Regions from separate parts of the Homo sapiens genome. Here region 2 is linked to region 1. Evidence: fine-mapped expression QTL. A gene starts in region 1. The other region holds a variant in brackets. All regions are shown on one strand. Distances are from middle to middle.

Region 1 (2,925 bases):
CAAACACTGCACGTTCTCACTCGTAAGTGGGAGTTGAACAGTGAGAACACATGGACACAGGGAGGGGAACAACACACACCAGGGCCTGTCAGGGATTGGGAAGTAAGGAGAGGGAGAACATTAGGACAGATAGCTAATGCATGCGGGACTTAAAACTTAGATGATGGGTTGATAGGTGCAGCAAACCACCATGGCACATGTATACCTATGTAACAAACCTACACGTTCGGCACTTGTATCCCAGAACTTAAAGTAAAATTAAAAAAAAAGTTTAATACACTTTTGCCAATACAATTTTAAAGACATTTTTATGTTTTTCAATTTTTTTTTGTCAAAACTGTGAATCTGTGGATTTAGCTCATTTAATTTATGGAAAATGTCTGCTGTATAATCAGCATTGTCAAATCAATTAGCCAAATCAGGCTGACTTTTTATCATAAAATCTGACTTCATTTTTCCATTGAAATAATTTCATTAAAAAACATTTAAAAAATGATTACAGAAAGCACTGGGAAAGAACGTATAAATGCATTTAAAAAAATAGATTACTAAAACCAATCAAGTTAAGATGAAATACTATAGATATACTTTATTCACTTTTATAGTAAGTTATACAAAAAAGAATAAGCCTATATAAGGTAAGGGAGTGGGAAATGTCAAGGATAACGCCAGTGATTTTTGGTTTAAGCAAATAGAATTGCTATTTACTGAGATAAGGAACACTGGATGTGAACTCAGGCGGCCCTTCATAGTCTGTCTTTTTTGTTGATCTTATTTTGTTTTAGACAGTCTATTGACTGATTTTTTTTAAGTTACGACTCTCAACTTTTTGGCCAATTTTATTCAAATGGAAATGATTATTGGCATATAAAAACATTATTTCCAAAATGTTTTTCCTTTTTAAAGTGACATATTTCCTTACCCCCAATACCTAAACCCTCTTACCAAACAGCGTCTCAAAGACTCAAATTCATACATAGATTTTACTGTAATATGCCGAATGGTTATATATTTAAACTTATTAAATATTGTAACAAAAATGGGAAGCTGATTTTTAAAATATTAAACACAGCCTTAGATGTAATAGGCCCCAACAAATCTCTACATTTTTTTTTCCTGTGGATCCCACCAAGAAATATGAAGTCACCCAGGTATTTTTTGTGCCTAGCTCAGTGCCTGGCACATAGTAAGTGCTCAATAAATATTGTAGTTGTTGCGTGAGTGAAATATAGAACATTAACTTACTAAATTTTTATAAGACCTTTAAAAAGAAATGGGGTATTTTAATATATATGTAATTATTTTTACCTTAGAATTGTATACCTCTTAGACCTGTTTTATTACATATATACGATCCTTCACTAGTAAGTGAGGCTTTTTAATGAAAATTCACGCCCACGAGTTGTGAAAATCTTAAGTGTAAGTCACCTCTTTCAGAGGTCTCAGAGCCACCTGTTCTGCAAAGGCACACATTTCTCCCGCCTTTAGGCCATACCTAGGTAGGCATGCAGGTGGTAGAAAGGTCAGACTAGAGTCTTTAACTTGGGCACCATATCTGATCTGCCTTTAGGGCACACTTTTGGGCCACACTCTGCACCCCCAACACCCCCCTTACCCCCAGCACCGTCGGTGTCACATCGGGGGCCGCCGCGTACCCGCGGTGGAATCTCGCAAGAGCCAGGGCCCCTCCTCACCTGCCCGGCACCCAGGATCCCTTGCGCCGCGTTCGGGACCCCACCCCCATTGTGGCCTCTTCGCCAGGGCGCAGGCGTGGCTCTTGGTCAGGCGGTTACGGCCAGGAGGCGTCGGAGCCTGGCGTGGTAGGGCTGTGCTGCGCGGTCCTTCCCATTCACCCTAGTCTGGCGCTCGCCGGCGTGGGCGGGCCGGACCTTCGCCGCTTCCAGGAAGGGCCACAACGGCCGTCGGACCACGGCGCGGCGGGTAAGGTCGTCAGCGTCTTCCTGTCAGCGGTCGGCAGAGCCTCGGCGGGCGGGCGGCGCGTGGGGCAGCCGGTGTCGCACTGGGAGGGCTGCGTGGGCGCGGAGGGCCTGGGCGCTCCCCACCCAGCTGCTGTGGGAGCGCCTCCGAGTCCCCGCGCGGAACCCTCACCAGGCAGATGCTGGCGCATCCACCAGGCGCCGGCGCCGCCACGCCGGTAGCCCCGACCGCAGGAGCTCTCAACGCGAGGTTCTTCTTAGTTGCTCTCCCTCAGGCAGGCCGCGTTCCCTTCTAGTCCTATATTTCTGAAGTTTTTTAAAATTTTCCATTTATAAACGAATAATGAGCTATTTGAAAAACCTTGCCATCACTTATTGTATAATATATACATATACACTCTCAACACAAATATATATGGATTATTATAAGTGATTTTGTATGTAGAGATATAACTTTTCTAAGAAGTTGATGAATTACATTAGGGACACTAATGGATATTTTACTTGCGTTTGTGGGATAGACTACGCTAGGAAATATATGTACATATACAGTCATGTGCCTCATAACAGCGGTAGTCCCATAAGATTATAATGGAGCTGAAAAATTCCTGTCGCCTAGTGATGTCATAGTCAAGGCATTATGTGTTTGTGGTGATGCTATTGTAAACTGTGCTGCCAGTCATAAAAGAGTAGCACATACAATTATGTACAGTACATAGTACTTGATAATAACAGATGAGTATGTTACTTGCTTATGTATTTACTATACCATACTTTTTTTTTTGAGACGGAGCCTCGCTCTGTCGCCCAGGCTGGAGTGCAGTGGCGCGACCTGGGCTCACTGCAAGCTCCGCCTCCCGGGTTCACGCCATTCTCCTGCCTCAGCCTCCGGAGTAGCTGGGACTACAGGCGTCCTCCACCATGCCCGGCTAATTTTTTTGTATTTTTAGTAGAGACGGGGCTTCACCGTGTTAGCCAGGATGATCTC
Region 2 (2,925 bases), 56 kb before region 1:
GGTTTAAGGTAGACCAGTGATATCATCAGACTTATGTTTTAAAAGCATTACTTTGTCAGAGCAGATGGATGGAATACAGGTTGATTGCTGTTTTTATTATTATTACTAGTATTCTTTTGTACATCTTTCTTCTCTGGGAGAACCAAGTGTTTTTCTTTCCCTCAGAACAGGTATAAAAATGTGAATAAATCCCCCCGAGGTGCTGTCATATGGTAGAGAGCAGTATTTTGGGGCTGTCTTATTTTCTTATAAAGCTAACTTCTCTTCAGAGCCTATTATAATTTTTTAGTCTCAGTTGAGGGACTTGAGAACAATATATTTAGATTATTTTCTCAAAGAGCTATTGGTACAGATTTTAAACAACAATCAGTGTGTTCAGTAAAATCACTCATGGCCTTATTAGTCATGCAGCACTTGTGGATTGGTCCAGAAAACAGAATTTAGAGGATGGGTGCATATGTATATGTGCATGCTTGTTTATGTGCATAAGTGTGCATGTGTGTGCAGATGCACAGGTACGTGTATGTGTATTACAGTCCTGGTGTAGGTATGTGAGTGAATGTGTTTCTATGTGCACGTGTATGGCACATGCACGTGTGGCATATGCATGTGTGCGCATACATACATGTGTGCGTATGGATGACAGAGTGTATTCTCTATGTGTGCACATATGTGTGCTTTATGTGCATTGTATGGCTTGGGTGTTGCATATTTATAAGCATGTGCAGTGTTCATGGGCCTCTGTTTGATGCAAAACTAAGAAGTGGCTCGTCACCATCTCTGTCCTTGATATATTTTCAATCCAGTTGGGGAGATTCAATATAGAAGCAGCTGTGAAATAGCACTGCCATCAATAGGTCATCTTTTATTGGACGTTTTCTACAAAGTGTGTCATTATTCATGAGAGTATGCTGCAATAAAATATGGTCTTTGTTTTCTTTATCCACAAAGTTAAAAGGTGGAATCGAATAAGTTTTAGGTTCCCTCCTGTCTAAAGTATGATTTAAACACTCATTTTCCAGTATTACAACCATCATTTAAAAGTCTTTGAGAAAAGCAGCAACTGTAAAAAATGTTGCAGTGTTGAGCACCCTGGCCAGGCTTCTGCAGTTTGGAGCATTTTCTCCAGCTCTGGGGCTGCAGAGCTGAGGTAGGGTGGCTCCACCTCCTTCTCCAGAGAAGTGACTAGAGCACCTTGAAAGGCTAGGGAAAGGCTAGAGGCTTTAGGGACTCATCCAGCTACTTCTGCCCAGGTCCACTTGTCACCAGGCTTGATGAGTGTGAGTAACCCATCACCTTCACGCATTGACCTCCCTGCATCACTCATTCATTACTCATTCATTTATTCTCTTTCCTTTCTCTTCTCCCTC[CT/C]TGTCTCCTCTCCTATTCACTCCCTCTCCTTTCACCAACTCTCCCCTCCTCTCCTTCACTGAGGAGGCAGGCAAGATCAGACACCCAGCTGGGGGCTGGGCATAAAGAAACATGCATCTGACCTTTTCTACATGACAACTGTGGAAGTCTGCTGCTAAATCTTTCATATGATCTGCAATTCTTTTTTCCCACCTACAGATTACTCCACGCTTCCTAGCTCTTGTCATAAATCCACAGATGCCTCATTTCACAATAAGGAAAACTGAGCCAAGACGGGTTTTAGTGACTCATTTAAAATCTCACTGCTGCTTATGGCACCTCTGATTATCATCCCCAAATAAAGTTTAAAAGCCACCACATCATGGGCTATTTTAAAAGATAAACTTAGGCACATTAAAACTTTAAAGAGTATATTTGAGTAGACAGGAATTCATGAATCAATAACACTGGACCACCCATGGTTCAGCACTCCACTGTGGGGGACCCGGGAGGCAGAGAGAGGAAAATTTTATAAGGTGTTTGGGGAAGTAAAAAATATTTACTTTTATATAAAAAAAAATTTGGCTAAAGTGGAAAGTTCCTAGTTAGAGGTTAACTGGTGGTTTCTGATTGGTTAAGCTTAAGTTTCATTTTTCTGTTTATATTGAGCTTAGGTTTGCTTTTGCAGGAATCTGAGGCACAAGAGTCTTCTCAGCCTAATGGACTCACAATTTTTTTTTCTTTTTAACAGCTACAGTCCATTTACAGGTTAATCTTTAGGTGAACTCTGGAGCTGAGTTCAAAGTCTTCCTTGTAATCCTGGGAAAGAAGAAATGAGAGGCCAGACCTGGCAATTTCTGAGCCATGGTCAGAGAGCAAAATATGAGGATCATGTTGACTGTAGACCTAATGCATTTTTATTTTAAAATCCTTTTTCTTAACGAATCCAGACCATTGAAATCTATCTGTAATGGGTTTGCAATTCTACTGGATTTCCTACCCTCACTCTTTTAAATATTGATTTGATATTGCCTTTAAAAGTTATATTTGGAGCTTGGAGGATTTTAGACTTCTAATATAATATTCAGTAAAAATTGAAATATGGAGGAGATGTGATGAAATAGCTGGTGACAGCAACTTCCACAGTGTTCAGTTCATTTTAGAAACAATATGAATGATTATTAAATGAATATGTTGCTCTGTGTATATACATTTATATATAAAGTCCCATCAAAAGTGGGAAAATGACATTTATAATAGCAATATTAAATGTAACTATTAAATATAAATATTGAGTCAAATTAACAACTAGTAGGGTTTTCATTTTTCTTTTGCAGTGATTTTTCTTTTGACATGAATGCCTGAATGGTTTCTGCCCTAAGCTGAATAAAGGGCAAGGCTTCCCCTCTGGCTGCCGGGCTGGGTGACCAGACCGCACACTTCAGTGCACCTGTGAAAAGCAGATTATGAGCCGTGTTAGTCTTGCGGCGTCTGTTCTGGAGAAGGCTGTATTAGTCTTAAGGCCCCGAGAAGGCTGTGTTAATATTAAGGCACGTGTTCACTGTTGGGAGAGGA

What was found. PIP is the estimated chance that this variant, and not a neighbour inherited with it, causes the effect.
Region 2: its variant is the best candidate, but not a certain one, in a credible set for the expression of DNAH14 in thyroid (GTEx, PIP 0.59).

The regions. Positions count from the first base shown.
Region 1 is chr1:224,927,895-224,930,819 of GRCh38, forward strand. DNAH14 (dynein axonemal heavy chain 14) reads left to right here and starts at 1,781. Exons shown (of 86, transcript NM_001367479.1): 1 at 1,781-1,941. LOC105373109 (a long non-coding RNA gene) reads right to left here and starts at 1,677. Exons shown (of 3, transcript XR_949207.2): 1 at 1,616-1,677. RefSeq lists a silencer at 2,016-2,115.
Region 2 is chr1:224,872,112-224,875,036 of GRCh38, forward strand. No RefSeq gene overlaps it. Among named protein-coding and RNA genes, the nearest start is that of DNAH14, 56 kb to the right of the region's middle. The variant CT/C (reference allele first, on the strand shown) is at 1,371.